Linked DNA regions of Homo sapiens. The protein of the gene in region 1 purifies or fractionates together with the protein of each later gene. This does not show direct contact. Each region holds a gene or a part of one and is shown in the gene's direction. Other genes may lie near its edges.

Region 1 (10,796 bases):
GTAATCTCAGCTACTCAGGAGGCTGAGGCCGGAGAATTGCTTGAACCTGAGAGGCGGAGGTTGCAGTGAGCTGAGATGGGGCCACTGTACTCCAGCCTGGGTGACAGAGCGAGACTCTGTCTCAAATTAAAAAATAAAAAATAAATAAATAAATAATCTGATGAGGTCCAGTTCAACAGATTCTGCAGATGTCTCCAGACATGTTTTGAAAACACAGCGGAAACACGCACATGTATGTTTTCTAGATTTTGCCGCCCACTGTGGTGAGAATAAAGGGGGAATGCAGTCTCATGTAAAGACAGAACATTTTGCTTGGTCTGCTCCGTGGGGGGTCTGTCTTGGGTAGGGGGGTCCTTACACATGGGGGTCTGGGGCTCACCTAAAAGGTCACGTGTTAACCTTAAGGGAATCTTCCTGCCCCTGCAGGAAATCACACATAAGACGGTGGTGGCCAGTGCCTTCTTTACAGCATCTGCCTTGAGGGTGAAGCCACAGCTGTCAACGTAACTGCTGAGAATGGACTCACCAGAGGGGATTAAGACAGGCAGGTCCTAGCCCTTCTTGGGGTCGAAGGTAGAAGCACACACTAGATTGGCTGGGCACGGTGGCTCACACCTGTAATCCCAGCATTTTGGGAGGCCGAGGCAGGCAGATCACTTGAGGTCAGGAGTTCAAGACCAACCTGGCCCAACATGGTGAAACCCTGTCTCTACTAAAAATACAAACATTAGCTGGGTGTCTAGTCCCAGCTACTCAAGAGGCTGGGGCAGAAGAATCGCTTGAACCCCAGATGTGGAGGTTGCAGTGAGCTGCGATTGTGCCCCTGCACTCCAGCCTGGGTGACAGAGTGGGACTCCATCTCAAAAAAAAAAAAAAAAAAAAGAGCACACACTAGATAAGCCACAGCCACCAGCAGGGAAAAGGAAAAGGTGGAGGAAGAGGAAGAGGATGGGAAGAGGAGGAGGAAGGGGAAGAGAAGGGGAGGAGGAAGAGGAAGAGGAGGAGGAGGGTAGGAGAAGGAGGAAGAGGAGGAGGGGAGAAAGAAGAGGAGAAGGAGGAAGAGGCAGAAGGGAGGAGGAGGAAGAGGAGGAGGAGGAAGGGGAAGAGGAAGGGAGAGGAGGAAGAGGAGGGGGAGGGGAGGAGGAAGAGGAAGAGGAGGAAGAGGGAAGGAGGAAGAGGAGGGAAGGAGGGAGGGAGAAGGAGGAAGAGGAGGGAAGGAGGATGAGGAGAAGGAGGAAGAGGGGAGGAGGATGAGGAAGAGGAGGAGGGGAGGAGGAGGGGAGAAGGAGGAAGAGGAGGAGGAGGAGGAGGAAGAGGAGGAGGGGAGAAAGAAGAGGAGAAGGAGGAAGAGGAAGGGAGAAGGAGGAGGAAGAGGAGGAGGGGAGAACAAAGAGAAGGAGGAGGAAGAGGAGGAGGAGGAAGAGGGGGAGGAGGAGGAGAAGGAAGAGGAGGAGGAGGGGAGAAAGAAGAGAAGGAGGAAGAGGCAGAAGAAGGGAGAAGGAGGAGGAAGAGGAGGAGGAGGGGAGAAGGAAGAGGAGAAGGAGGAAGGGGAAGAGGAAGGGAGAGGAGGAGGAAGAGGAGGGGGAGGGGAGGAGGAAGAGGAGGGGGAGGGGAGGAGGAAGAGGAGGAAGGGGGGAGGAGGAGGAGAAGGAGGAAGAGGAGGGAAGGAGGGGGGAGAAGGAGAAGGAGGAAGAGGAAGGGAGAAGGAGGAGGAAGAGGAGGAGGAGGGGAGAATGAAGAGGAGAAGGAGGAAGAGGAAGGGAGAAGGAGGAGGAAGAGGAGGAGGAGGGGAGAATGAAGAGAAGGAGGAAGAAGAGGGGAGGAGGAAGAGGAGGAAGAGGGGAGGAGGAGGAAAAGGAGGAAGAGGAGAGAAGGAGGATGAGAAGGAGGAAGAGGAGGGGCGGAGGAGGAGGAAGAGGAGAAGAAAGAGGAGGAGGAAAAGGAGGGGAGGAGGAGGAAGAAGAAGAGGAAGAAGACAAGGAGGAGGAAGAGGAGGAGAAGGAGGAGAATGAGAAAGGAGGAGGAAGAGGAGGAGAAGGAGGACAATGAGAAGGAGGAGGAGAAGGAGGAGGAGGAAGAGGAGGAGAAGAGAGAGAATGAGAAGGAGGATAATGAGAGGAGGAGGAAGAGGAGGAGGGGAGGAGGAGGAGGAGGAGGACTACGAGGAAGAGGAGAAGGAGGAGGAAGAGGAGAAGGAGAAGGAAGAGAATGAGGAGGAGGAAGAGGAGGAGGAGGAAGAGGAGGAGGAAGAGGAGGAGAAGGAAGAGGAGGAGGAGGACGAGGAGAAGAGTAGTTCTGGATGGAAGGGCATGTTCCACTCAGTGTTCTGGATGCTGGGTGGAATTGGGGGCATCCTGGGGCAAGGAGGAGACGGTGACAAGAAACCAGCTACTCTCAGAACAATTCTGTAAGACTCCAAGGAAGAGCAACTGTGTCTGGGACTACTTTTATGATTAGGGGTGGTTCCCATGGCAGTGGACAGCAACCATGACACTTTAAAGCATAGGAACCAGAAAGGAGGGGGTGAAGAAGGGTACATAGGCTGGGAAATACATCAGGAAGGGGTGCTTCCAGTGGTCCAGGTGAGACATAGTGATGTGATATTGGCCAGGGAGTGAGACTCAAGGACAAAAGGGGCTGTGGAAATTTACAAGTGGGAGTGAACACTCCTAGCTGGATGTTTGTGTTTGGCCTGGGAGGATGGCCCCACTTGCTTGTCCATGTTCATGTCATCCTCTTGGCTTTGGCCCATGGTTCCAGTTTGTCAAGGCCATGGTGATTGGGTTTGGCCCGTGGTCCCAGCTTGTCAAGGCCATGGTGAACAGCCGTGCATCTGTCCAGTCTGCATGAGCAGCGTCCTTCTTACACAGCTTATTCTCTGTTGTGAGCACTTGCGCTGAGATGCTTGACATGGCTCAAGTCCTGGAGGGAGGTGGAGGCTCCCTCCACTGGAGCCCATCAGGGAGTGGACCGGGGTAAGCCACTTGACCAGGCTATCTTCTTGCTCCTGACTCCCTTTGTTGTTTACAAAGTTACTGTCAGAGAGCTGGGCAGCAGCCGTGCCCCAACCCAGGCCCAGAAGGCAAGGCGATGCCCAACTCCACTAGTCGTTATAACCGTGTCCAAATAGGAAATGAGCTTTGCCTGGCATGACTAGCTTTCAGGGGGGCCATGTTGGCTCCTAGGAACTGTCACTTAGCTTTCCAAGTGCTCACACCAGCTGTCCAGGCTGGATAGCCAGGCCTGGGGTCTGCCATGTCGAGGAGTTGTCTTGCAGCCAGCTCCCACTCCTTACCCACCTGGAGCTCTCCAACCTGTCCACATCTCTGCACACGTCCTCCACAGCCATTGACAGGATGGGCCCCTGCTCATTTTTACTGGTTCTCTGGGCTAGATGCTTGCCTGGGCCTGGGAGCAGCTGGCCACTGTGAAGGCAGGAGCAGAACAAGCTGTGGTCAGAGGAAAGGGCCTGGGTGCCAGGTCTCAGAGAAGGGATTTGATCTGGTCTCCTGGCACAGTAACTCTGGTAACTGGGAGAGTTACTGGCACAGTAACTCTGGTAACTGGGAGGCCCCGTAGGCCCTGGCTGGCTCCTGCCTCTCTTTCCTCCGGGCAGCAGAGGTCAGCGTGGCTAAATTGCTAGTTATCCCTTTCTTCAATTAAGGACAATTCTTCTGACGCAGGAAGTTAACTCCCACCAGTTAATCTAATGGCCTTGAGTTTTGATGTGTTTGCTCTGTCAGAAGGCTGGGCTGGAACTTCCTTGGCAGCTGGTAACAGTCAGTGCCTTCAGGGGCTGCCTTAGGGGCGGACAGAGGCTGGGGTGAAGGTTTAAAGAGGGGAACCATGGATCTGGGCCTCTGAGTCGTGGTTTTCAGGGGACAGATCTGGCTTACTGTCTTCCCATCTGAGAAATGGGGTGTGGAGTGGTCTGGAGAGATGAGTTCTGAAACTCCCATCAACTTGGCACCTCCCCTTAACCGCTCCACCCAGGCCCTTCTGGGTGACTAGTTTAGGGTTTGTGAGGACTAAGTGGTGGGAGGGGAAGGGGTCTGGGTGCCCACCCAGGGAGCATCTGTCAGCAGGTGTTTGCCTGTGTTTGTGTGTACGAGTGTGCCTACACACACCCATGCATGCATCCCTAAGCACACACAAGCACACACACATACACCCCATGCACACATACCCAGGCACACACACAAACACAACGTGAAGCTGTGCCCAGAAGCAGGAGGGCCCTTGATGCCCTCTGGTCACTGCTGCTACTGTGAGCCAGGGCTGGGGAGGAGCTCAGGCCCAGGCGTGTCCCCTCTGTGGCAGGCGCATTGCTTCTTCTGCAGCCAGCGTTCTGTCTCCTGCGTGACCACTCACACCTACAGACCAGGTGGCCAAGCCTGGACATTGTCCAGGCTATCAGGCCTCTGAAACACCTCAGGGAAGGGTGAGGCCAGTGAGGCCCAGTAGACAAAGCACAGGGGCCTGAAATTGATCCTCCATGACCACAAGCACCGAACTTTCTTAGCCCCCACTTCGTTATGTGTATGCTGAGGATAACGCAATGTAGCTGAGAGAGTACATGAGGGTAAATACCGCCTGTTCAATCAATAGTCCTTGTTATTCTCATCCCCAGTCCCATTCTCATAGTGGGGAAAGGCTGCAGGGTCCATTCCTGCTCTCCCAGCTGGTGACCAATGGCAGGTGCTGGTGAACAGCGTTGGATTCAGGAGCCCAGAGCTTCTGAAATTCTACATCTGTTGGAGTTGGTGCTGTCATCTGGCTCTGGGATCCAGAGCTCTTGGGACTCATGGGTTTCCTGGGAGGTGAGCTCTGGCAAACGTGGATGGTTGTTCTCCCTGGGTGAATCCATACTAGGGAGTTTGGGTAGAAGGCCTTGGGAAGCCCTGGTTTTGTTGGGTGAGGTGTCGGAAGGCAGAGCAGAACTCATGGATGGGACATGCGGGTTGTAGATTTCAGCTCAAACGAGTAAGAACATTCTTAAGGCCAGCACTAGCCAAAAAAAAAAAAAAAAAATTAATAAAAGGAAGAACTCTCACTTAAGATACTGAGCTTCCTGTCCTTGGAGGTAACCAACCAGGAGCTGGAGGACTGCTTAGCAGGAATCTTGTGAATGGAGTCAAAGCCCCAGAGAAGGCACTGGACTGAGAGCCCCCATCTAACCCCATGTGTGCCCTGTTTCCATAGAGGAGCTTGCAGGACCCTGGAGCCTGGACCATGGATGGAATTCTCCAGTTGACCTTTTCCCTGTTAAGTGGAGTGGGACAGGGTGGGTTGGGTGCCTGGCTCTACAGATGGTAACTGGGCTTCAGCCTTACCAATTCCTGGGGGAGGCAGGGCACCCTCTCAGTGGAGGGTTGTTACCTCTCAGGCACCGCCAAATACAATTGGCCATCTCCTGCTCTCTTTTGGGGCTGGACTGTGGATCCCTGCTGCCCCTAAACAGAAGTCATAACCCATATCTCCCCGGACCACAAGGCCTGTCCACTAGAATCTCTGCATCCCGATTTAGGAAGTGGAAGGCGGGTACTGCTCACCACCAGGCCGCTGGGGTCCACAAAGCCTGCTCCAGCCTAGAACCCCAGGTGGATGTGCAAGTGTTTTACTTATCCCTTGAGGGTTAAAATCACGGGAATCCTTTCTCTTTTGAGGTTAGGTCAGACGCCATAAATGATCCAGAACCCCTGGAGCGGGGGCTGATGGAGGGGGTCCCTCTCTTGTCTCTGATCCCAGAGCGACTTTCCTCTTGACTTCGTGGGGGCCTCCCTTGGATCCCTGTCCTCCTTCCTCTCTCCGCTCCCTCTGTCCGTCTCTCCCGGAGCCGGAGCCGGGCTCTGGGTCTCTGGTCTCCTCTGAATTTCTCTCTCTCTCCCTCCACCTCGGCGTTCTGGCCCTAGGAGCGTCTCTCTCCAGCGCTGTCTAATAGTCTGTGCGCCCCTCTCCCAGTCCAGGGCCCCGTCTCTGGCCCGCAGTGTCTCGGGCTGTCTCCGCGTCTCTGAGCCCCTGGGCTGCCGCCCCTCGCGCGCTGCGGTGGCCGCGCGGGCCGGAGCGGAGCGGGCTGGAGCGCGGCGGCCACGGCCCGGGGCGGGGGTGCGGGCCCGCGGGGGCGGCGTTGGGCGCCTTCCTTCGTCAGTCCCTCCCCGGCGGCGCGGGGGGTGGGGTGGGGGGGGGGCGCGGCCGCCGCTCGGCGCCTTTAAGGGAGCGGGAGGGAGCGGCGAGGCGGCGGCGGCTGCGGTGGCGGCAGCCGAGGCGAGCGGGGCGGGGGCGCGGGCGCGGCGCTCGGAGTCCGTTCGGGGCCGGAGGCGGTCGGGGCCGGGCCCGGGAAGCGCGAGGAGCGCGCGTAGCGCCGCCGGAGCCCGCCGCCCGGGACATGGCCAAGGCGGGCCGTGCAGGTGAGGGCGGGCGCGGGGAGGGCAGGGCCGGGGCCCGGGGGAGGGACTCGCGCGTCTAGAGGAGGGGCCGCCGGCCCAGGTGAACCCCTCGCGCAGGTGGGCGGAGGTCCCGGGAGGGCGTAGGGGGCGGTAGCGGGGCTGGACCTCCCGCGCGTGGAGAGGGGGCTCCGCGCGCCCCCCGTCCTTCCTGCGCCCCCGGTCACCTCGGGGGACACCGCGTCCCCTTCTCCACGGCCCCGCCGGAAAGGGCCAGGTCTGCGGCGCCCCGGGCCAGTCCCGCCGTTGGGAGCCCTCTGCACCCCGCGGAGGCCCCGGGCAGACCCGGGCTTCGCCACCGAAGGGGATGTCCCGCGGCCGCCGCTTCGTCCCACACCCCAACGCAAACCGGGACGCGCCCCCTGCTCCTGCAGCTCTCTCCATCCAGGACGCCACAACCCCCCGCCCCAGCCCCCGTCACCAGCTCAGTCCAGAGACCCAGATTCCTTCTCGGGAAGGAGGGGAGCCCCGTGCCGCGCCGGCTGCTGGCCGCCCCGCCCCCTCCCCCATCGACCCTGGGACGCAAAGCCTCAGCTGCGGAGGCCTCTTCTGGGGTCCCGTGGGCTCTGCCCTCCCCCAGGCTCAGACGGTGTAGCCTGTGGTTTGAGGGAGCGGGCATTAGTCATTCGTTCATTCATCCAGCCCGACGTTCATTCACTAGCATCTGCTCTGTGCCAGACCCTGAGCTGGGCACCGGGGCTCAGGCGGACTCAGCCCCCCTGCTGCGCCCATGCTGGGGAGACCCAGGCCCGTGACTCATCGGGCACATTCTGGGCCCGATGGTGCCTTGGGAGGCGGGTGGAGGACAGCTGTGCCCACAGGGCCGGCCATACAGTAGGCGGCAGCAAGCCTGGTCTCGGCAGTGCCTCTTGTGAGGCTGGCGTGTGAGAATCTACCATGAACTCACACCCAACCCGTGACGTTGGCTGGTGCCATGCCGTCCCCCAGGACCGGGCGCGACAGTGAAGGAATGGGTGTGAATACCATCGGGCTGTGTGTCAATCCACCCCCAAGCCCGAAAGCTGCCCGGGACCCTGGGCTGCGGACCCGTCTCCCTGTGCAGGCACTGAGCCTGTAAGATTTAGGTGCCTGAGAATGCACTCCCGTTCTGTCCCCAAGGAGTCCTGTCGGGGTGGGGCCGGTTGTGTGAGGCACAGCCAGTATGGAACACAGCTAAACAGCCTTCTCACTCCCCTCCCTTTTCCCCTCCTGAGGGAGGCACTGTGAGATGACACCAAGGAAGCTGAAAAAGGCTTCTTGCCTCCCTCTTTCCTCCACCGTGCCTGGGTCCTCACCCACCCCGACTCCTTAAAATGGCCTGTGGCAGGGCGTGTGTCCCATCTGCTGCCCTACCCTGTGTGTGTGTGAGTGTGTGTGTGCACTGGGACGCCTTGAGCACAGGTCACCTGCCAGGGCACTGTCATCGCAACGGCAGTGAACATTTGCTGCTTGTTCTATGTATTAGGCAGAGTGCTAAGCTCTTTACTGTACCGTGATCCTGGGAGGGAGGAAATGCGACTCTCCCACTTTTAAAACATCTAGAAACAGATACTCAGAGAAATAGCAGCCTCAAGGTGGCTTAGAGGGTCTGGGCAGAGCCTGGACTCACAGCCAGGTCTATTGGACTCGAAGGACTCTCTCTGTCACTGCCCTGATAGGTCACCCCCTTACCAAATGGGGGTGCCAGTCTCAGTCCCTCTGCCTTAGCCTGTGGGTCCTTTGGTCCCTGGGCTGAGAGTCTGTGGGAATTTGTTCCAGTGACAGGTGGAAAAACTGCCCTGCTCTGAGCATCAATGCCTTGTGCTGTTCTAACATTTTGGTTTTTTTCTGCTGCAATTTCACGCTTGGCCCTTTCCCTCGAGGCAACACAGATTCCCCGTGTCTGTAGATCCAGTGCCTGGGCTCCTGCCCCCCACACTCAGCAGTCATCCCAAGGAGTCTGGTTACCTCTCCCTTCTCAGCTCAGCTCTCCCAGGCTCCTCTGCATTTTGTAAATGTCCCTTCTCTCCTTTTTTTTTTTTTTTTTTTTTGAGATGGAGTCTCGGTCTGTCTCCCAGGCTGGAGGGCATGGCTTGATCTCGGCTCACTGCAACCTCCGCCTCCTGGGCTGAGGCGATTCTCCTGCCTCAGCCTCCCAAGTAACTGGGACTACAGATACATACCACCACATCCAGCTAATTTTTGTATTTTTAGTAGAGACGAAGGTTTCATCATGTTGGCCAGGCTGGTTTTGAACTCCTGACCTCAAATGATCTGCCTGCCTCAGCCTCCCAAAGTGATGGGATTACAGGTGTGAGGCACTGCGCCTGGTCTCCCTTCTCTTCTTGATGCTCATAAGCCTACTGAATCAAAAACAACACACAGTAATGTGTGTATGAGAATCACATATTCCTCATTGGCAACATCTGTGAAGAATAGATTGGTGAGCTTCAGAACAGAGGGAGCCCTTGGAGATCAGGAACCCATCTCTTTCTTCACAGCTGGGGAAACTGAGGCCCAAGGAGAACATAGAGAGCGGGGTGGCTGTTCAGTACCACCTGCCTCGGATGGGCAGACTGATGGGCAGGAATGATCAGGCCTTCACTCTGGCGGGGTGGGGCGGCGGGGGGTGACACAGGAACAAAGGGCTGCTGAAGGCCAGGAGTGGAGGCTGTGGCACCCGGCCTGTGAATGAGGGGTCTGCACCATGACCTGTGAGATGTTCCCTTTAAAATCTGGCCAGTAGATCACCCACGGAGAGAAAAGGCAGAGCTTTGGGCCCCAGGGCTGCCATGGTACCTGACTTTAGGTCATCACGTGTGGTCTAGTGAATAATACCCCTGGAGTTGTGCAGTGCACAGCCTGAGCAGCAGGTCATGGCTGTGCCAGATTTGTGGCATGGCTTGTGTCGGACAAGAGCTAAAAGGAGGCAGTGAAAGGACTCTTACACTGCCAGGAGAATCCAGGTACAAGAGAAATTGTTATCGGGGCCCAGAGAGGATGAGATAGATCTTCAGAAGGTGAATCCAGATGGGTTATTACCAGTTCTCAATCTCTAGGGGAGATTTCAGTTACACAGAAAGGCATCATTTATGGTGGCCCCAGTCTAACCAGCAACAGGGAGGTGGGGGCAGGGGTGGGGAGGATTCAGAAGCTCTGAGTAGGAGGGACAATTTACAGTACAGAGCTCCCCACGGAGCAGAGAGGCCAGTGAGTGGCTTGAGACAGACAGTGAAGGCTGGGTTTCTCTGGGAGATGGGCCCTAAAGGCTGGCACAGTTTGTATAGAAAGGTGGCCAGGGGCTCGGTGCGGTGGTTCGTGCCTGTAATCCCAGCACTTTGGGACGCCGAGGCGGGCAGATCACGAGGTCAGGAGATCGAGACCATCCTGGCTAACACGGTGAAACCCCGTCTCTACTAAAAATACAAAAACAAAATTAGCCAGGCGTGATGGTGGGCGCCTGTAGTCCCAGCTTCTTGAGAGGCTGAGGCGAGAGAATGGCATGAACCCAGGAGTCAGAGCTTGCAGTGAGCCGAGATCGTGCCGTTGCACTCCAGCCTGGGCTACAGAGCGAGACTCCGTCTCAAAAAAAAAAAAAAAAAAAAAAGAAAAAGAAAGGTGGCCAGGGGCCGGCTTCCAGGTGGGGGTAGTGGCTTGAACAAAGGCTAGGAGGATGGAAAGGAAGAGGCACATGTGTAAGTGTGGGAGGACTGCTATGGGTAGGGGTGGAAGGTGGGTAGGAAGTGCCCAAAAGTAAAGAAACCTGGCTGGAGCGGAAGAATGCAGAGGGCTAAAAGGAACTCCAAAGAGCATGAAGACAGGAGTGCCGGGGTAAGACTTGGCACTGTGTTTCGACAGATCCCTCTGGCTGGGACGCCAGGGCTCCTGGGAAGCTGGAGAGAGGCCAGCCTGGTGGAGCTGCCTTTGTTGGGAAGGGTTGATTCTGACTCCTGCCAGCCACACTGCCCCTCCCTTCCTGTCTACCTCCCTGTGCCCCTCCCTCTGCACCCCAACAGGCTGCCCCTCTCTCCCACTGAGAGAATGAGGGTAGGGGGTGGGGGCCAGGTCCCCAGGTTAGGCAGGAGCAGAGTGAACAGCCTAGAGGGTCTTGGCACCTCTCAGGCTGGGGCAGGAATATCTGCAGAGACAGAGCCGAGGCCACAGGGTTGGGCCTCCCAGGCTGGAGGAACCAGTTTATTCTCCTCTCAGGTGTTAGCCTCTGCTCTGAGGGGTGTAGCTGGCAGGCTTCCATGTGGCAAACCTAGTAATTTGAGTCAGTAAAGTACTGATCCTACGGTGTTAGGATGGGAGGGAACATTTCGATACTCATGTTCCAAGTCCTCGTTAACAATGGGTCGCTGAGGGCCCGTGAGA
Region 2 (10,683 bases), on another chromosome or scaffold:
AGCGCTGTTGTACAAAATAGGGTTCTTTGAATTATTAGCTCTGTTTGGATTGTCAGCTCTGTATATACGTAATGTCCAATTAGTGGTAGTGGTTATTTTTTAAGGATCAAATGTGGTTTTATTATTTTTGAAGTTTTATGACCTATTCAGTTCTTTGTGTTCACTTCTAAAAAATTTTTGAGGCCTTAACTCTGACATTTTCTAAATTTCTTAAATGTATTGCATTTCATTTATGTCCTCCATCTGACATTTGAAGGTGACATATTTCCCTTTTTTTTTTTTTTTTTTTTTTTTTTTTTTTTTTTTTGAGACAGTGTCTCGCTCTGTCACCCAGGCTGGAGTGCAGTGGCGCGATCTCGGCTCACTGTAAGCGCCGCCTCCCGGGTTCACGCCGTTCTCCTGCCTCAGCCTCTCCGAGTAGCTGGGACTACAGGTGCCCGCCACCACGCCTGGCTAATTTTTTGTATTTTTAGTAGAGACAGGGTTTCACCGTGGTGTCAATCTCCTGACCTTGTGATCCGCCCGCCTTGGCCTCCCAAAGTGCTGGGATTACAAGCGTGAGCCACCGCGCCTGACCTTGAAGGTGACATATTTTCTAGAAAAAAATACTGATTTTTTTTAAATGAAGACTGAGGGGCTGTAAAGAACAGGGATTTCAGGGGTCTTATAAAGGGATTTCAGGGGTCTTATCATAAAATGGTTGAATATACATTATTTTCTGTTGAGACAGAACAAATGGGGTATCAGTAAGTATAATTAGGGAATCCCTTTCCCACCTGTTTGTATAATACAGTATTTTATCTATTAAAGGAATTTGAAAAGAAAGGAAGAGAACTATGGACTTAATGGTTATATGAGTCTTTAAGTGTTTATTGGCCTGGGATGTGTGTGAGAGAGTGAGTGTATTGGGGGATAGGCTTTAAGTACAAGAGAGGTTTATGAAATTGTTCAGATTGAGTGTTATCAAAGATAAGAAGACATACAAGTGCTTGTTTTTCAGATTATTGACAATTATTAATTAGTAAACATTAAAAGCCACAAAGAATTAGATGGTATTCATTTTAAAACAATGTAAGGCTGGCATAAATTTTAATAAAGTATGTACATTTAATAGGTGCATGTAATGCAAGTAGATTATAACTAATTTTGTTTGGGAAATACAAAAAGCGAGTTCAGAAACTACTTTTGCTTTAACATAGCTATTATTAGTATTGTTTCTTATGCATTAATGCATTTTTATAAAGTGTTAATGTTTAGAGCCTAATGCTTTCTGTGTCAGTCATTCCCAATATCATGCAGAAGAAATCAGAGTTCGGTGAGAATCTGAGAATATGTTTCCCATGCCATCTCAGGGTATAACTCCACCAGGGAATGCTCCGACTGTCACTTCAATGAGCAGCATCAACAACACAGTTGCAACACCTGCCAGTTATCACACGAAGGATGACCCCAGGGGACTCAGTGTGTTGAAACAGGAGAAACAGAAGGTTTGTTATAGGGAGTTAACAGACTTAGGAGTCTACTAGTGTCAATGGTTAAGTTAATGTAGATACCTAGCAGATAAGTGGTATTGTGAGTATGTTGTATGAAGTAGATAGAATTGAACTATGCCTAAAATTACAATAAAACTACAAAGCACTTAAAAATCATGCATACAAACTATTCTGTTCTAAAAAACTTCTGAACTTAACTAAAATCTATATAGTGAGCAGGACAGTATAAGTGTGAACATTATGAAGTTGCTGTAATTTTTTTCTTTGAGATTTGGGGAATATACTCTTTTTTTTTTTTTTTTTTTTTTTTTTTTGAGATGGAGTCTCGCTCTGTCACCCAGGCTGGAGTGCATGGCACAATTTCAGCTCACTGCAACCTCTGCCTCCCCGGTTCAAGGGATTCTCCCACCTCAGCCTCCTGAGTAGCTGGGAGTACAGGCACGTGCCACCATGCCTGGCTAATTTTTGTATTTTTTTGGTAGAGATGGGGTTTCACCATGTTGGCCAGGCTGGTCTCATTAAACTCCGACCTCAGGTGATCCACCTGCCTTGGCCTCCCAAAGTCCTGGGATTATAGGCGTGAGCCACCACATGTGGCAACCCCACAGTTTTAACAGATTGTTTATACTTTGATTTGGTTTTGCAGATGATATGCATACTAAGGCTTTAAAAAATTATCTAAATGTTTAATAATTTTTTGTTTTTGTGATTGGGAATTATTTACTTCTGGGAGTCATGATCCTAAAGAAACAGTAAATTGGCTGTTTAGAGTGGGAAAAAAAAACTTCAGGTAACTTTGTTACTTAAATCCTGTCTCTTAATTCATAGGTTAAGACCTTAATTTTGCCTCTCTCGGTTTATGACAGTACTCTTGACTTTAGCCTTTTAACTCCCTTTATGTGCGTTTTTATCCATCACTCCTGTTAGTTGTAAGAATGTAGGCCCACGTTTATGTCTTTTATCTCCTTTGTTCTTCCCAAGGCTTCTTTGCAAACTTTTTCTTGTATTTCCAATTCCTAGTTCCCTCTTTTTCTAATTAACCCCCAGTAAAAATACTTGGGATATTAGAACTGAAATTCTGATGGTTAAAAAAGAATACAGAAGTACAGTCATGCATCTGTTAAGGATGGGGATATATATTGAGAAATGTGTTGTTAGGTGATGTGTTGTATAAACATCATAGAGTGTACTTACAAAAACCTATATATGGTATTGCCTTTTGCTCCTAGGCTACAGACTTGTATAGCCTGTGGCTGTACTACAATGGTAAGTATTTGTGTATCGAAACAATCTACACTGAGCTTATTCAACCTGCAGCCTGCGGCCCACACGTGGCCCATGATGGCTTTGAATCCGGCCCACCTCAAATTCGTAAACTTTCTTAAAACACTATGAGTTTTTTTTTGTGTGATTTTTTTTTTTTAATAGCTCATTAGTTAGTGTTAGTGTTAGTGTATTTTATGTGTGGCCCAAGACAATTTTTCTTCCAGTGAGGCCCAGGGAAGCCAGAAGATTGGACACCCGTGACTATACACAGAAAAGGCGCAGCAAAAATATGGCATAAGAGATAAAATTGTATACTTGCATAGGGCACTTACTGTGAATGGATCTTGCAGAACTGGAAGTTGTTTTGGGTGGGTCAGTGAATGAGTGGTGAGTGAATGGGAAGGCCTAGGACATTACTGTACACTGTAGACTTTATAAACACTGTACACTTAGGCTACATTTATTAAAATTTTTTTCTTTAATCTTAGCTGTCCGTAACTTCATAAACTGTAAAATTAAAATTTTTGACATAAAGCACAAGCACAGTGTATAGATAAATAAAAATATCTTTTTAATGTCCTTATTCGCTGCCTTTTTCTATTTTTTAAATAAGATTTTTAAAAAAACTTCTTTTCTTAAGACTAAGACATAGCACACACATTAGTCTAGGCCTGCACAGGGGCGGGATCATCAGTATCACTGCCTTCCACCTCCACATCCTGTCTCACTGTAATGTCTTCAGGGACAGTAACACTCATGGAGCTGACATCTCCTATGTTAACAGTGTCTTCTGGAATACCTCCTGAAGGACCTGCTGGAGTCTGACTTAGAGTGTCCTTTTTGTTTTCGTAAGTAGAAGGAGTACACTCTAAAATAAATGATAAAAAGCATAACAGTAAATACATAAACCTGTAACATAGTCATTTATTACCAAGTATTCTGTATTGTACATAAATCATATGTGCAATACTTTTATATGACTGGAGTACAGTATGTATATTTACACCAGCATCACCACAAACGTGAATAATGTATTGTGATAAGACCTCACTAGGTAATAGGAATTTTTCAGTGCCATTATTATTGTATGGGAACACTATCATATGTATGAATCATTGTTGACCAAAACATCATTATACAGAACATGACTGGACAACTCAGATGGAGGATTACTGCAGATAGGCTAAATAATATAGTGGAAACTGGACAAGATTGGTTTATTGTTTTAGTTGATACACACCTTGACCTTCCAGCTTATTCTGAATTGCAGTGTTAAATGTAAGGTTACCATTCATCAATTTACTAAGAGTCACAGCATGTTGAATCTCTCTGGTGTGCTTGTTTCATGGTTCTCAGAACAACCAGTCTTTTCTTTCTGGACCAGTTTGAAGCAACTCTCAAGAAACAAGCTGTTTTATTGGAGCCAAACCTCACTAATAGAGGTCCTGGATGGAAGCATATACTTAAAGTTACACCTGCTTAATTTTTTCCATCAGGCTCTTCAGATTGTCACTCCATGCATGACTCAAAGCCCACCCTCCCATCACACTTCCCCCCATTACATATACATATATAGCATAACATATACATATGTAGCATATGTATATGTAAATAAATTAGATTTTCTTGCACCTGTTATGTATGTTCACTGGTTTGTAAGGGGCCTAGGTAGTATGTGATATAACTTATTGGGCACACTTTTGAAATGTGTTTCGGCTTCACTGTATTCTTTGCATTCTATTCTGTTTATGCTCCACATATTGGTTATCATTTCTTCTCCTTTTTGTTACAAAAGCAGTATAACATTTTTAAGAGAAATTCAACAACAAAAAAATCTAATTCTATTTGCTTAGATAAATTCTAATCTAATTCCAAGTCTAATTCTATTAGAATTAGAAAAATCTAAATCTAATTCCAATCTAGTTATCTTTTTATGGAATGTCTTCCTATGGACATGTTATTTAAAATTTGAAAGAATGGAAAGCTGCCCATCAAATGCTTAACAAAAGTGAAATGTTTAATTTTGGCAAGGCATAGAATAGAATATTTAATGACATGTCATTTAATAATAGTAATATAAATAATAGTTTTGTTGATTTGACAAGATTGTGAGAAATGACTTTTTCCCTTCCCTCCGTAATTTAAAATTTTATGCAATGTAAAGAATTTAAAAATAATCAGTTGTCGAGCTTGATGATTCTTTTAGTTTTTTTTCTCTTTGGTGTTGACCCCATGTATATCTTTTTTTCCCCCTTTTGGAGATAGGGTCTCACTCTCACCTGGGCTGGAGTGCAGTGGCACGATCTCGTCTCATTGCAACCTCCGCTTCCTGGGCTCAAGCCACCTCAGTCTCATGAGTAGCTGAGATTACAGGTGCACACCACCATGCCTGGCTAATTTCTAAAATTGTTTTTTGTAGAGACAGGGTCTCCCTCTGTTGCTCAGGCTGTTCTTGAACTCCTGGGCTCAAGCAGGCCACCCATCTCGGCCTCCCAAAGTGTTGGGATTACAGACATCAGACATGGTGCCCTGCTTCATCCTCTTTAAGTTTTTATCAGTTTTCTGGTATGAGTATGATACTTTTTCCCAATTTTTAACCAAAACCTGAAAGTTCTTCTATTGCCATATTGGTGGCCATTGCCACCTCCTTTATAGAGTAAGTCAGTGTGCCAACCTCATTATCAGAAGTTGGATTTGTGCTAGGATAGAATTTGACCACACTGAAAATCACAAATGAGTTCTAACTACTATTAAGGAAAAGAACAGGAAAAAGTATTGGCAGGGTAAAATATATCTGAAACAGTTTTTTAATAATAGGGGCGGCTATTATTAGATTGGTTGGGGTGGGAGAAATGGGGGTGAAGAACAAAAAAGCTAGCAAGAGAAAAACTCAGAGAATTGAAGTAGGCTGCTTTAAAACGTTGCTTAACTGGGAAGCTTGAAGAAGAATGGAAGAGTCTGCCGACAGGTCACATACATGCTGTTGTTCATTAGAACCTCATTATAAATTTTCATTTTTAAATAGATTTTACATGGATTTAGGCATACTAATCAAATCACATCCCCTTCATAAGAATAACAAGTTTTGCCCTTTGAACAATCTGTTTATACTTAATATAAAATTGGCAGCTGGGATGGTGTGGTAGGTGTGCAGCCTCTGATAAATCTTATAAAATGAGTATTGTGGAATGCCATAAAGTTGATTTAGTAAATGTCTTTTTTAGCAGTTTATAGCTGAATAAAGCAGATTTTACCTAAAATTATTTTAAAGTAAGTGAATTTAATTAAAATGAAAAAAGCTTGTTACACTAATACTGCTACGATGTGTGGTGACATAAATGCTGTTGGAGTGAAGGATGTTGGGGTACTTTAGACAACGGGCTGAAGAATACATAGGTGCTGTCATAGATATTTATCTCCAGGCCTTCACTAGCTTCAAATGGTTCAATGTTGGTGAGGATTAAGATTTTGGGGCTCATAGTCTTCAAAGCATGCTAAGTGCTCCTGTGATGTTGAATCACGTGAATTAAAGCAAACAGCATTACTAAAGATGACAAATTAATAGAAGTTAGCTTTTCTTGGGCATGTTTTTTCTTAGGTAGTTTCCGATTTTATTGGAATGATTACGATAATATCCCCCTACCCCCCAGAACCTTATTTGAATTGCACAACCAGAGCACGGAAAATGACCTTCAATGGATTTTGTTGACGTCATTCAGCATACTTTCATTGAATAACTACTCTTGACCAAAGTGCTGGTTTTAGGGGTAAATACAAAGAGAGATGGCTCTTGCTCTCTCAGCCTTTGAAGTATTACAGGAAAGAACTTGAACAATAATTATTAAGATACATAATAAAGTGCTATGGTAGAGGTACGTGCCAGGGATTATGGGAATAGAGGGAGTGGGCTGGTTATTTAGACTAATCTGACTGCTGACATGTACTGATTTAGGCCTTTTAAAGAGTTTTTCATGAACAAAGATGTAGAATTTATATTGTTATTTGTTTAAAACCTGTAAGGAGATTTGGTTAGTTAAAAAATTCCCAATATCTTTGTAATGCAGAATGATATGGAACCTAGCAAAGCTGTTCCACTGAATGCATCTAAGCAAGATGGACCTATGCCAAAACCACACAGTGTTTCACTTAATGATACCGAAACAAGGAAACTAATGGAAGAGTGTAAAAGACTTCAGGGAGAAATGATGAAGCTATCAGAAGAAAATCGGCACCTGAGAGTAAGTTCTGTTGGTTGAAAATAAATTGATTGAAATGAAGGTATAGGACATGTGAGTGTTATTAGGCCATTTTAGCAATTAGCTTTTAAATTTTTGCTTGGTCAGTTCTTTCTTCTTTGCCCCAGTGCCTTTGCTCCCCACCCTACTCCTCTTTTAACAGTCTTCCCGTGGTTTCTCATTGCTGCAAGTTCCTTACTTTAGCACACATTCTAATTATTTGTGATCTGGCCTGCAGTATTGCCAGCTTCTGCTCTTGTTTCTCATGTCCTTCCCATTTTGTGCCCTAGTCATACTGAACTGCCTAGGATTGTGTTGTCCCACATCATAGCCATTAGTCACCTAGGGCTGTTGAGCACTGAAATGGGATTTGTTCAAATTGAGCTGTGCTGTTGAGTGTAAAATACTGATGTTGAAGAGTTAGTACAGAAAAAGGTAAAATCTTTTTTTTTTAATGGTTACATACTGAAATAGTAGTTTGGGTATATTGGGTTGAATCAAATATATTATTAAAATGAATTTTACCCATTTCTTTTTACTTTTTAAATGTACTGTTGGAAAATTTAACTTTACATACGGGGCTCACATTTGAAGCTCACATTGTATTTGCGTGGGGCAGCATTGGGCTGGAGTATGCTGGAGAAGCATCTGTTTATCACCCCTCTTTGCTTTAGTGTAAGCTCTTCACTGTGACTGGAAAGGCCCAGAACCCTGCCCCTCCCGACACAGCACATACACACATTGACGTTTTGCTACTACAGCATATAGCCTTTGCTGGGACCCTCTCCAAAAGAAGAAAAAAATCGATTTGTCATGTCTGCTTTGTGCCTCCACTATGCTGATCGCCTTCTACTGCTCTTACTTGTTAGAGGCCTTTCTCCCTCTAGTGGGCAGTAATTGCCTTGGTGGCAAGGGCAGTGCTTCATTTATCTCTGCATTCACCATACATGCATGTGGTAGTCATTCATGTATTTGATTGAATTAAATGGATGGCGAAGGAGGACTGATTTGAATATGTCTGAAATTTATGAATAATTTGTCTTTGACAAGTAATTACTTGTTTCAAGACCTAAATACCTATACGTTGCTCTCTAGGCTTTGTTTGAAGCTCTTTGCAGCAAAGTAGATGATACAAAAATGTATGTAACTAAAATAAGCTAAATGATGGGAGTTATTTGATTATTCCTTTTGTTAGGTGTATGTAGGAACTACACTCTAAATTAAAGGCACTGTGTTTTAAGTCGATCTGTGAACTCCTTTGCTGAAATGCTTTTTAAAGTGAATTTTTGTGTCTCTTCATGCTTGATGTTTCATAGTACCCCCTCGAGGGGTACCCGTCTGCTTCCAAGCACTTGTCTGGGTAGCGGAAAGAATATCTTTATTTCACACCTACACGCCATGGATCTTTTAAAGGATGTTGTTGGTTACTTTTACTTCATCTGCCATGACTTCCATAGTTCTGTTCTTTGATAAAGATGTGCTCCTTAGGGTGCTCAATAGATTTCTTTCAAAAGCCACTGTTTACCTCTGGCAGGGAGGGGAGAAGTGGAAACAGTGAGAATGACATAGATGGGGCAGGGCTGGAAAATAGGAAGAGTGAACCAGGGAAGTAGGTGAGAGAGACTTTATTCCTGGTTTCTACTCTTTTTATGCTAGTGTTCTGTATGAGATTTTATTTGAGAGATGATTCTGCTGCTGGAAAAGTAAAACAAAAAAGCTGGGCTGGGCGGGTGGCTCACACCGGTAATCCCAGCACTTTGGGAGGCTGAGGCGTGTGGATCACCTGAGGTCAGGAGTTCCAGACCAGCCTGGCCAACGTGGTGAAACCCCGTCTCTATTAAAAATACAAAAATTATCCGGGTGTGGTGGTGGGTGCCTGTAATCCCAGCTACTTGGGAGGCTGAGGCAGGAGAATCACTTGAACCCAGGAGGCAGAGGTTGCAGTGAGCGAGATCACGCCATTGTACTCCAGCCTGGGTGACGAGCAAAACATCGTCTCAAAAAAAAAAAAAAAACAAAACCCTTGAAGACCCACTGGCTTACAGAATTTCAGACCCTATACACAGGCCCACCATAATTTTTTGCCAGGTTCACTTTCTTGCTCCTGTCTGTTCACTATCCCTTTTAATTCCCCTAGCCCTGTGGTTCTTAATTCACACTGCATGTGAATCACCTAGTGAGCTTTAAAAAGTTACAGTTGACCAGGCTTGCCCCAGACCTAATGAGTCACAATCACAGGAGTATTAAAAGTTCTGTAGATGTTTGTGATGTGTAGCTGAAACTGAGAATTACTGTTTATATAGGACTAATTAGCATGAGACCAAAAAAACCCAACTCCAGAAAATCCAGTAATGCAAATAAAACTGTGCCATTAGGTGTACTCTTTTAGTTAGTGTTTATTTATAAGCACAATAAAGGAATCATGGGAGAAAATATTGCCTTGTACTGAAAAAAGTAAAAAACTGTCCTGCCATTTATCAGATTGGTTAACAGACAGAGATAAAGACAACTGTGTAGTTAACAGGTATTAGTATTTTTCCCAAGGTTCACATTGCACACAGTGTCATAACAACCTCCTGCTTGGAGTGACTTCTGCTTTCTTCTGAGAAACCTTCTGCTCTAAAGACATAGTGCTGTGTGAAGCCATATCAGCAAGAATGAAGCAGCCTACTCTTGACTGGAGGATCTAAGTCATTTTGACACAGAGAAGCACCCTCATTTTCCAGTCCAGGTGCAGAGCTTCAGATAAGGGTTTCCTATGTACATTTCTCATCTAAATTTGTAGTTTCTGAAGAAACAGTATTCTTTCTCTGCTTTGCAGTCGAGACCTGGTGCTACCACTTTACACACAGCCCTCTGCTTTGCTTTGAGCATATAAAAACACTGTTACTTAAATTTCACGCTAAACTGTTTCCTTCCCCCAAATTCTGTGATACCATATCTCTGTTTACGGCAAGAACACCCTTTTGTGCCTCTGCTGTTCCGGTTCCTTAGTTGCAGTGTGTCAGTAAACCCAAATGGCAGACTACAGGTCTGGGTAGTTTTTGGCTGATTGGGCTAGGACGGATGTAACTGATTTTAAATACCATGGGCCACCTTGGAAGTACTCTTCTTTAATTATATTTTTAGTGGGATTTAAAAAAAGGTAAATATAGCCTATCTAACTTTTGCTTTTTAGGAATACATTTCTCAGCTCCAGTTTTAAAAAATCAGTGTTATTGAGGTATAATTTATATCCCATGGAGACACCCACTGTGAGTGTACAATTCATTGATACATAGAACTTTGTAACCATCACTATAGTTCAGTTTTAGAATGTCTATCACCCCCGGAAAGTTTCCTTATGTGGTTAGCAGTTAATCCCCTTTTCCGTCCCCAGCCATAGGCAACCACTAATCTACTTTCCGTCCCTATAGATTTTTAGCTCCAGTAGTCTCGTTAGTATGCTTGTTTTTAAAAACCTTTTGTGTGTGTGTTTTTTTTCTAGGATGAAGGTTTAAGGCTCAGAAAGGTAGCACATTCGGATAAACCTGGATCAACCTCAACTGCATCCTTCAGAGATAATGTCACCAGTCCTCTTCCTTCACTTCTTGTTGTAATTGCAGCCATTTTCATTGGATTCTTTCTAGGGAAATTCATCTTGTAGAGTGAAGCATGCAGAGTGCTGTTTCTTTTTTTTTTTTTCTCTT
Region 3 (10,683 bases), on another chromosome or scaffold:
AGCAGCATCCCTGGCTTCTGCCCTCTTGATACTGGTAGTACTTCCCAGTTGTGACAACTAAAAATGTCTCCAGATATTGCCACATGTGTCCTGGAGGGCAATATCAACCCCCATTGAGAGTGATCCCATTCCGGTGTTGCCTGTGGGGAGAAGGAAGGAGCCCCATCCTCTAGGCTGTCCACTGTGAGCGCTTTACCTTTCATGATCCTCACTTGTGACCAGTTGAAGAAAGGAGACTGTATCTGAAATGCTAATTTGGACTTCCCTTCAACCTAGTCGAAAACATTTTAATTTTTATAAAAACACCAAAACTGTGAAAGCATGCAGCATGTGAAACTATCCTAGCCATTAATAGCTGGAGTTGGGAAACAGAAGTACCCTGAAATGTTGTGTTAACAGTATCTATGTTGGTCTGCGCGAGTGCTGTTGATTTGTGTCAAAACTACCTGAGATTTTATTTCTGCTGAATCATTTACCACTATCATTACCCTGTTTCTTTAAGTGGATAGTGGTCATTTTTTCCCTCTTCCCAGTGTACATCCTGTCACAGGAAGGTCAGTTTGGAAGCTGTGAAAGCAGTATTCTGGCCTCAGCTCTGTGATAGGTTGACTTGGTAGCCTGGGGCCTTGCTTCACAGGGCCTACTCTTCTCATCTGGAAAATGATGGGTAGAGCTAGATTCCAGGCCAATGATCGTCAGTTACTCTTTCCCTGACAAGCTGCGTGCTTCCATGCCCTCCCTCCACTGACTGGCTCTCATCCCCTGTAAATCTCAAGAGGGGATCATAGCTGAATCTTGGCAGGGGAAATAAGGGGAGTATGTAACTTCCCAAGATTGAAACATTGCAGACACTGAGTTTGTTTCACCTTCATCCCAGCTTCCAAATGCTAAGTTGGTAAAGTAATTCGCCCTCTGTCTAATGCTCTCCCAAGCCTCCTAACCCCACTAAGGCAATCCTAGGGATGTTCACATCTTTGTGGTGACAGTAATTTGTGGCTAATAATTCCTGAGCTTGCACAATTACAGTATGCTGATTTTTCCGTGGCAGGAATTTGATAGTGCAATATACACAGCCCTTTTTCTCTTTCTTTGAAGTATTAGTCTCAGCCGAACTTCATTATTTGCCCTTATCCATAATTTCTAGGGCCCTGTTGCTTTAGATTATTAAGATATCAGATAAAGTAATCCATTTTTAAAATAAATGTGACATTTTACAGTGTGGATGAAATGCTACCACGTTTGGTGTTTGCTGAGAACTACTTTACTTTGCATAAAAAAGTCCATTATTACATGGTCGGTGACACTTAGGCTTTCATTTGTTTTTGAACAGCATGATGTAGAAATAAATAAAATTATATCCACAACTGCATCAAAGACAGAAACACCAATAGTGTCTAAGTCTCTGAGTTCTTCTTTGGATGACACCGAAGTTAAGAAGGTTATGGAAGAATGTAAGAGGCTGCAAGGTGAAGTTCAGAGGCTACGGGAGGAGAACAAGCAGTTCAAGGTAATAGTTTATTTTCTGGTAATCTACAGAAAACAAGGGCGTTTTCACTAGCTTCTTGGGTGGGGAAGTTGATGAGCCAGTGAATATATAGATTTCTTTTTGCTTTTGGTATTTGGCTATTTTTTTCTCCCCAGGGAGAAATTTCCATGGCTTTCATGAGAGTCTCAAAAGGGTCCTTGGATCTGCCTAAATTAAGAACCACTGTCCCTTGATCAGAAATTTCTCAACTGTTGAAGCTCTTGTCCCCTTAAAAAAAAAAACAAAAACAAAAAACTTGGCCGGGTGCGGTGGCTCACGCCTGTAATCCCAGCACTTTGGGAGGCCAAGGCGGGCCGATCACAAGGTCAAGCGTTCAAGACCAGCCTGGCCAACAAAGTGAAACCCCGTCTCTAATAAAAAATACAAAAAATTAGTTGGGTGTGGTGGCAGGTGCCTGTAATTCCAGCCACTCGGGAGGCTGAGGCAGGAGAATCGCTTGAACCCAGGAGGCGGAGGTTGCAGTGAGCTGAGATCGTGCCACTGCCCTCCAGCCTGGGTGACAGAGCTAGACTTCGTCTCAAAAACAAAATAAACAAAACCCCAAACAACTCAAACTCTCCATTATTGTAAATTGAAAATAAATGTTGAGACCAAAATAGTTTTTATTTTGAATATGCATTTTTAAACCACTTGGGTGAGAATCTTTTTTCAGAGAGTGAATACTGACCTATACTCTGTTTTAATGCAAGTATAGTTCTGATTTTAGAAGACTCTAAATAGGTCTGGGCAGTTGTGGCTCATCAAACTATTGATGTGGTGATGAGCTTGGAGGTGGGGTGCCTCACAGTGGGTAGGAGGTGGAGATTATGGAAGGAAAATCTGAGCTTCTAGCTTCTGGATGAGGCAGTTGGCATTGGCAATGGAAGGTTGTATTGTACTGAGTGATGAAGTGGGGAGGCAGGGGGTGCTTCTTTTGGCTTGTGGTGGTGTGGAAGTTGCTCCCATCCAATATGAAACAGCTCTGAATCTGTGCTGGTCACAGCATCTCTTAGGCCTCTGTTTGCTAAACACCTCTAAGGCCCCTTCCAGCTTTAAAAGTATGAGTTTTCTTCTCTTTTACTCTGACAGTGAGGTAGATATAGGAGAACTGACAGCATTTGGGAAATGGCATCATCTTCTTCCTTTGCAGTGATTTTGATTTGCCTCAGTCAGTAATTTCTTTAGTGTGTAGTAAATTGTGAAGCTGACACTACTTTTTGGCTAAAAATCTAAGCTATGCCTGAAGCTTCTCGAGTGTATTTCTCTTCTGAAACAGAGTTCTGTGCTATTTAAAGTGGTAAATAGGTAGAAATAGCTTCTATATAACCTAATAAAATAAATGGTTTAGTTTGCCGGGTTTTTTTTTAAGCCAGTCGGACACCACCAGTTGTTTATCACTGTGCAGTGATACGGGCCATGCCCCATGAGCAGAATATCCTTAAAATATGATCAGACCAATCTCAACATTAGAAGATTCTTTATCCTGCCAAACACTGCCTTCTTGTTTTGTGTTGGTTTATTCTGTCATCTGGCCAACAAATTTACTGAGGGTCTAATATGTGCCCGGCACTGTGGATTCAAACACGAACAGCCCCTGCCCTTGAGGAGCTCTCTGTTGTTGGGATAGCAGGGAGAGACATAGACAGAAGTGATTACAAGCCAGTGTGATCAATGTCCCACAGAGATAGCAACAAATTGCAGGGAGAGTCAGCTCCATGGGACTCATCTGCCTGTGGTCCCCAGGACCTACTAGGTACTCGGGCGGATGGGAGCGAATGGAAGGAAACGAAGAAAAGAAAGTACAGCTGGTGTGTGGGGTTTAAGGATGAGGAGATGAGGTAATTAGCAAGAGATCTATCAGCAAAGATGAGTCTGTGCCAGAATAGAATGGCTTGATGCATGTCCCTCTTCAGGGATGTGGGCTTGGCTTTGAGAGCATGGAAATGGCATCATAGATCTACATAGTAACTTGCAGATTCTTAGGAAAGTGCAAGGCAGTTGTGGCAGTGGAGGTGAAGGAAGAAAAAATTTTTCATTTCTTACATTTCCATGTAGTTTGGGGACAAGGGGAGGGTGGGGAATATGGTCAAATATCTTTATATGTATGAAAAAGAATGTTGCTTCTTCAATGAGAAATCTATGCATTAAGTAGAAAATATTTGAGATGAGTGTATGAAGGCCAGTCACATTTTAATATTCCAAATATCATTTGATCCAGCAGTCTGGATGTAACTCATTAAGTACCAGCTATCTACAGAGCTCTGCATTTGAAAGCTTCCAGATGTCCCACTTTTAGGTTTTTTTTTTTTTTTTTTTTTAATATGGAGTCTCACTCTGTCACCCCAGGCTAATTTTTGTAATTTTAGTAGAGACGAGGTTTTACCATGTTGACCAAGGGGTAGTCTTGAACTCCTGAGCTCAGGTGATCCACCCGCCTCAGCCTCCCAAAGTACAGGGATTACAAGCATGAGCCACCGTGCCCAGTTGACTTTGTAGATTCTTTTATTTATATATTTATGTCTTGGGAAATGCCTGTGATTTTAAAAATCGATGATTTGATCAAGGAAGGCTATTCATTAGAGGCAGGAAGGACAGAGAGGTTGGGGTTGAAGAGAAGCATCCGGAAGACATGGCCATAGAGGTGGGTGGGGCCGAGGGTGCAAAGGGCCCAGTTGACCCTTTTAAGTGCTTTTTTCTGTAAATCACGGGAAACCAAGGAGCACCCTGTTTAGATGTCTGTTGTAACTAGCAGCAGCAAGTGGAATGGATGAAAGAAAAGAGGGGACTGTTTTCTCAGTGGCTTCAGGCTAGCCCTTTCCCCTCTGTAGCCTGCAGTTTCTCCGTTTGCAAAATGCGGTTGGACCATATCATGTCATCCAACACTGGGCATAAACAGCCCATCCCGTTAAGCTGTACAGTTGACTCCCCTTTCTGGTGCCTTGGCTTGTCTTTGAAATGTGCGTTTGCTCCCGTAGGAAGAAGATGGACTGCGGATGAGGAAGACAGTGCAGAGCAACAGCCCCATTTCAGCATTAGCCCCAACTGGGAAGGAAGAAGGCCTTAGCACCCGGCTCTTGGCTCTGGTGGTTTTGTTCTTTATCGTTGGTGTAATTATTGGGAAGATTGCCTTGTAGAGGTAGCATGCACAGGATGGTAAATTGGATTGGTGGATCCACCATATCATGGGATTTAAATTTATCATAACCATGTGTAAAAAGAAATTAATGTATGATGACATCTCACAGGTCTTGCCTTTAAATTACCCCTCCCTGCACACACATACACAGATACACACACACAAATATAATGTAACGATCTTTTAGAAAGTTAAAAATGTATAGTAACTGATTGAGGGGGAAAAGAATGATCTTTATTAATGACAAGGGAAACCATGAGTAATGCCACAATGGCATATTGTAAATGTCATTTTAAACATTGGTAGGCCTTGGTACATGATGCTGGATTACCTCTCTTAAAATGACACCCTTCCTCGCCTGTTGGTGCTGGCCCTTGGGGAGCTGGAGCCCAGCATGCTGGGGAGTGCGGTCAGCTCCACACAGTAGTCCCCACGTGGCCCACTCCCGGCCCAGGCTGCTTTCCGTGTCTTCAGTTCTGTCCAAGCCATCAGCTCCTTGGGACTGATGAACAGAGTCAGAAGCCCAAAGGAATTGCACTGTGGCAGCATCAGACGTACTCGTCATAAGTGAGAGGCGTGTGTTGACTGATTGACCCAGCGCTTTGGAAATAAATGGCAGTGCTTTGTTCACTTAAAGGGACCAAGCTAAATTTGTATTGGTTCATGTAGTGAAGTCAAACTGTTATTCAGAGATGTTTAATGCATATTTAACTTATTTAATGTATTTCATCTCATGTTTTCTTATTGTCACAAGAGTACAGTTAATGCTGCGTGCTGCTGAACTCTGTTGGGTGAACTGGTATTGCTGCTGGAGGGCTGTGGGCTCCTCTGTCTCTGGAGAGTCTGGTCATGTGGAGGTGGGGTTTATTGGGATGCTGGAGAAGAGCTGCCAGGAAGTGTTTTTTCTGGGTCAGTAAATAACAACTGTCATAGGGAGGGAAATTCTCAGTAGTGACAGTCAACTCTAGGTTACCTTTTTTAATGAAGAGTAGTCAGTCTTCTAGATTGTTCTTATACCACCTCTCAACCATTACTCACACTTCCAGCGCCCAGGTCCAAGTCTGAGCCTGACCTCCCCTTGGGGACCTAGCCTGGAGTCAGGACAAATGGATCGGGCTGCAGAGGGTTAGAAGCGAGGGCACCAGCAGTTGTGGGTGGGGAGCAAGGGAAGAGAGAAACTCTTCAGCGAATCCTTCTAGTACTAGTTGAGAGTTTGACTGTGAATTAATTTTATGCCATAAAAGACCAACCCAGTTCTGTTTGACTATGTAGCATCTTGAAAAGAAAAATTATAATAAAGCCCCAAAATTAAGAATTCTTTTGTCATTTTGTCACATTTGCTCTATGGGGGGAATTATTATTTTATCATTTTTATTATTTTGCCATTGGAAGGTTAACTTTAAAATGAGCCCTATCACTGAGAAATACGTGTTTCATGATTTAACTCTGTGTGTGTGTGTGTGTGTGTGTGTGTGTGTGTGTGTATTTTTTTTTTGGTTGTCTTCAGCTGACAGTATGAAAAATGAAACTGCTGAAAAAGCTGAGCACCTGGTCACCCTTGGCCTTCCATTGCTTTGGCCTTCAGTAAAAAGCAGCCTCCCTTCTAGGTCAGGGAACCATGCCATTGAGACTAGTAACGGGCGTTCTGGGCACAGTCCCACTGTGCACAGGTTTGAGAGGACAAGTTCATCAGAAGGAAGGCAGTCCTTAGAAGTCACATACGTTGAGCCACGTTGCTCCTAAGCCTGGCTCTGTCAAGCTGGGTCAGGGGCCTTGAAACTGGAGAAGTGGAAGTCTATGGTTGGTCTGAGTAAGTAACTTCCTGTCTTCATGAAAAAAGTTGACTTTGAATCCCAGGTACTCACAGAAATGGTGAACAGACTTAGTTGTTACCCAGGCACCCATGGATTGTGTTGAGTGTGCAGACAGGGAGGCCACCCCAATAGGAATTCGTCTCCAGGATTTTTCCCATGTGTCCCCCAGTACTTATAAAAGGGAGTGAAAAGACCGAGCTGTAAGGCATGTGCCTTCTGCCACCTGACTTTCCGTGAGGGGACTAAAATTTACTAATTGTAGTTGCTGCAGCCAGTTAAGTCCTGTAGCTTCCAGGCCCTCATGTCTTTGATAGGAGAGTGCTTAGGTGGTCCCCAACAGTGCCTAGGGGTACAGTACAGTCCCATTACACTAGAGCAGGGCTCTATTTATTTTTAAAGGATATGGCCGTGTGTTTTGATAAAACTTTATTCACAAAAACAGCCGGGTCATGGGATTTGGCTTGTGAGTCTGTAACAGTTCTTAAAAAGAATATCTGAGAAACTACTCTGTTTTAGACCTTTGAAGGTGATTTAGAGTTTTGTGTACATCTAGGAGAAGGTGTTCAGCTTCTCAGAGGATGTGGACATTTTGGTTGCAGCTAAAAATCAGTCTCTGAAGTCTCTCTCCCTTCTAGAGGTTAGGACTTGGTGAACATGTTTGTGGGCCTTTTGACTGAGTGGCAGAAGGAAACTGCTCAGGAAGAGAAACAGGTGACTGATGGGAAGGTTGATTATTTTCTCAGTCATCCTGGCAGCCAAAAATGTGCCAGGAAAAGAAAGAATGTGGAGCACGCGTGGCTCCTGGAGGACTTGGAGATGCATGCACATTTAGGGTGTTTTCCCTAGAATTACATAATGAAAAAAAGAATAAGGCAAAGAGGAGGTGAATATGGGGCCTGTCACAACGGCCTGCCCTGCCCCAAGAGGGTTAAGAGTCAGATAATCGGGACGAAACTGGCATGGAAAGAGCGAGCCTAGGGAGGATGCCGCTGGGCAGTGTGCATGGGGGAGCTGCTGCCAGGCTGCCCTCCAGTCTGCTCCTGTGGTTACTGGCTCCACAGCACCTCAGAGAGGGCGGCCCTGGCTTCAGAAATGCCAGCCATAGTGCTCACAAATGCAGAAGAGATGGAAGCGGTGACAGAATCCTGAAAGTTTTTATTGATTGAAGTTTTAAATTGGTAACTTAAGCTTCCTTGGCACGATACAAAATACCTCTTAAAGACAGCAGGCTTTTTTATTTGTAGGTGTGAGGAACTGGCTTTAACTTTTTTCTCCTCCTAGTTTGCATGTTTTCCTTCTCTCGTCTTCTGAACTGCTGGCACCAGCAGTAATACATACTGATAAAATCAAAATTGATTTTTACCAGTGGCCAGTTTATGGCTAGAGAGACGACTTATACCTCCATAACACAGAAGGGGGAAAAATGAAGAACCTCCAGTGATCCGTGAAAACCTAAACGCTTTCAAACAAATCCCAGGAACAGAATTGCTATCGAAAGATATCATTGCCCAGTTTGCAGGCTATGTTGAGTCAGATAGAACTGAATGTAGTGAGAGCTCAGAGCTACAGAGCCTTTCAGATGAATTTGAAAACAGACTCTGTGTGTGTGTGCATGTGTGCATGTGTGCATGTGTGGCATATGTGCCGTATGTCAGTAGCTTGACAGTTTTCAAATCGTGCCTATATTTTTTTGCATACACAAATTTTTGTGTTTGCAAACTCAGAATCCATGCCAAAATACAATGTTATATGTCATTTTCAGCTCCTTCTCTAAAGGAATGGCCCATTTCTCATTGTAGTTTGAGAAATACATGTATGAAGAGATAGGGGTCTTGGGCTTCCCAGTGTCACTTTGAACACCTGAATAACATTTAACTCCTGAGACCTTCTCGGTGTAGAGGCCACTGCTTCCCCCTGCTGGAGATGGCATTTCATTGAAGGGCCTCTCGTGGCTTTCCCTGCCCCCGGCTGTCTGGCCTGAAGAAGGAGAAAGAACCAAACTGAACTATGAAAAGTTACCACTCTGAGGAGACCTCTCTTAATTAACACTTGGGGCCATGTTTGCTGTTGTTGAGAAGGAGTGTTCTCAAAGATGAGCTGGAATGGAATTGTATTTAGAAAGGCCCCTGCAAAGTATATAGATGGATGACTCTAGTTCATGACATACAAATCCCATAAGGCCAACGACCACTCTTCTGGAACACCAAGAGCAGCTCTGAGATCATGCTGGCCCTACGCGAATTGAGTTTCTGTGGCCTAATTGGATTTGGAGAACGCCTTCCCTGGCCCCTTTTCCTCAGACAGATCTGCTCTGATAGGAACCTTTTCAAGAAAGTTACTGTTGTTTCAATGCCACTCCTTACCTGTATAGAACATTTCCAATACATTCGCTCATTGAACTTAATCCTTGCAACTGTGACTGGGGGGTAGATGGCTCTGTTTGCATACGAAGAAATAAAGGCTCCAGGAGGTTAAATCGGGCAACTTTTTAGAACTAAATCAGTCTCTGTAAGGCCTACATTGCTAAGATACCATTTCAGCTCTGAAAATCTGCTTCAGGGAAGTGAGTGGATGAGGCCTTCCTGCCTCAGCTACTCTGCCCGTCTGTACATCTTTTGTGTCTGCCTCCGTACCTTATTCAGTTATTTTCACACTAAAGTAAGTAGAATTAAGACTGTAGTTCAGATGCTTTTTCTTTTTCTGTTGGAAACTGAACACACTACAGACAGTGAAAAAAGGTACATATTCCATTTTCTCATTGCCTGAAGATCTCTGCTGATGCTCCTGGAGAATGACTTTGGGGGCTTTAGAAAGAATATTGCCAGTCCGTCTCGGCAAGGAGATGATGGGAGCGCTTTATATGGAGGCTTTACATGACTTGTAAATTAAATGTGAATGAGGGCAGTTGATTAAAATTGGTATTACAGAAGGGCCCTGCTGAGGTTTGAAAACAGCTGAGCTGCTGATGTCTCAGGCCTTTCCCTGAATTAGCACTGCGGTTCTCCAGGATATCAGCAAAGAGGGCAAGTAATAGAAGCCCCTGATAAGGAGCGTCAGCCGACAGGCAAGCTTGGGAGGCTGTGGGAATGGGTCTGCCCCCAGCTTCACAGACCTCTTCCTCCAGCCTCTGAATCCCATTAGCCACAGCCTAGAACATTAGCTGAGCTGCACAAGCTCACCCACCCCTGTGCCAGGGGGCCCTGACCTCCCTCCATGCCATGTTTTTGGCTGTATCTACGGCACTTAACAATAGGGGCTTTTTATTTTCATTACAGAGATATTTTGAAAAATTTAAAAGACATGAACTCACATAAACAGTTATGGATGATAGTTAAAAGAGAAACGGGTGGAGGTGGATGAGAGGTTGTCTTCATGAATATAATTACTTGAGATTTTTTTTTCTTAATGGAATTAGTTTATTAGAAAATGTCTGTGTTAAATCCGTAGAAAAGGAAGAAAAGTGTAGCAACAAAAATGTAGCCATTATCTAACTTGCCATAAATATTTGCAGTTATGATACCTTGGAATGTTGCCACGATATGGATTGCTTTGATTAAAAGATGTCAGTTGAATAAAACAGTACTGTGGGAGAATCGCTTTCTGCTGCTAGATAAATGCTGATGTTTATTTTTAAACCAGGAAACATTGATCCTGTAACAATGCCCGATTACAATTGCTTTATTACACCCCAGGGCTGATGGAGATGTAATCACTTGGCTAATGGATGTGGGTGCAGGACAGATGCTCGCTTGCTGGCCTGCTTTCCTGCTTGCATTCTGATGAGCTGCAGGAGTGCGCCTGGCCTTCTGCAGGTGGAGCTGCTGTCAGAGCTTCGTTTCACTGATACCCAAAGCCATGTCTGACTGAAATAAAACAGGTTCCCTTTTTTTTTCCCTTTGGAAAATGCCAACTAAGGGAGACTAATCAGATATCTTAACACAATTTCATCCAGGCTTAGTGCTAACAAGATTGCGGGGCTTTTTAGGGTTTAAGAAGATGAGAAATGAGTGTGCACGTTTCACACGTTGACTTGCCGGTTTTTCCATGTCATACAAAAAAGTCCTGGCTGTTTCTCCGAACTGGCTGCCTGCATTCCCGTCTTTCTTTTGTTTTTAAGAAATAGACTGAATTCAGCTGTTAATCCTCTAGTACAGTATCCATGTTAAAATGTTTTTCCATTGCATCTTTTATGTGAATTCAAAGGTCAG

Evidence for each region.
Region 2: the proteins of PITPNM3 (region 1) and VAPA purify together in Homo sapiens (co-immunoprecipitation; 3 studies listed by BioGRID and IntAct, with this or other methods). This does not show direct contact.
Region 3: the proteins of PITPNM3 (region 1) and VAPB purify together in Homo sapiens (co-immunoprecipitation; 3 studies listed by BioGRID and IntAct, with this or other methods). This does not show direct contact.

Annotation. Positions count from the first base shown.
Region 1 is NC_000017.11:6,551,996-6,562,791, reverse strand, and holds the start of PITPNM3 (membrane-associated phosphatidylinositol transfer protein 3), read left to right. Parts: upstream 1-6,236; 5' UTR 6,237-6,385; coding exon 6,386-6,407; intron 6,408-10,796. UniProt on the Homo sapiens protein: Catalyzes the transfer of phosphatidylinositol and phosphatidylcholine between membranes (in vitro). Binds calcium ions.
Region 2 is NC_000018.10:9,943,572-9,954,254, forward strand, and holds part of VAPA (vesicle-associated membrane protein-associated protein A), read left to right. Parts: intron 1-1,352; coding exon of another isoform or gene 1,353-1,487; intron 1,488-6,823; coding exon 6,824-6,997; intron 6,998-10,481; coding exon 10,482-10,640; 3' UTR 10,641-10,683. UniProt on the Homo sapiens protein: Endoplasmic reticulum (ER)-anchored protein that mediates the formation of contact sites between the ER and endosomes via interaction with FFAT motif-containing proteins such as STARD3 or WDR44.
Region 3 is NC_000020.11:58,439,577-58,450,259, forward strand, and holds part of VAPB (vesicle-associated membrane protein-associated protein B/C), read left to right. Parts: intron 1-1,330; coding exon 1,331-1,507; exon of another isoform or gene 1,508-1,508; intron 1,509-4,500; coding exon 4,501-4,659; 3' UTR 4,660-10,683. UniProt on the Homo sapiens protein: Endoplasmic reticulum (ER)-anchored protein that mediates the formation of contact sites between the ER and endosomes via interaction with FFAT motif-containing proteins such as STARD3 or WDR44.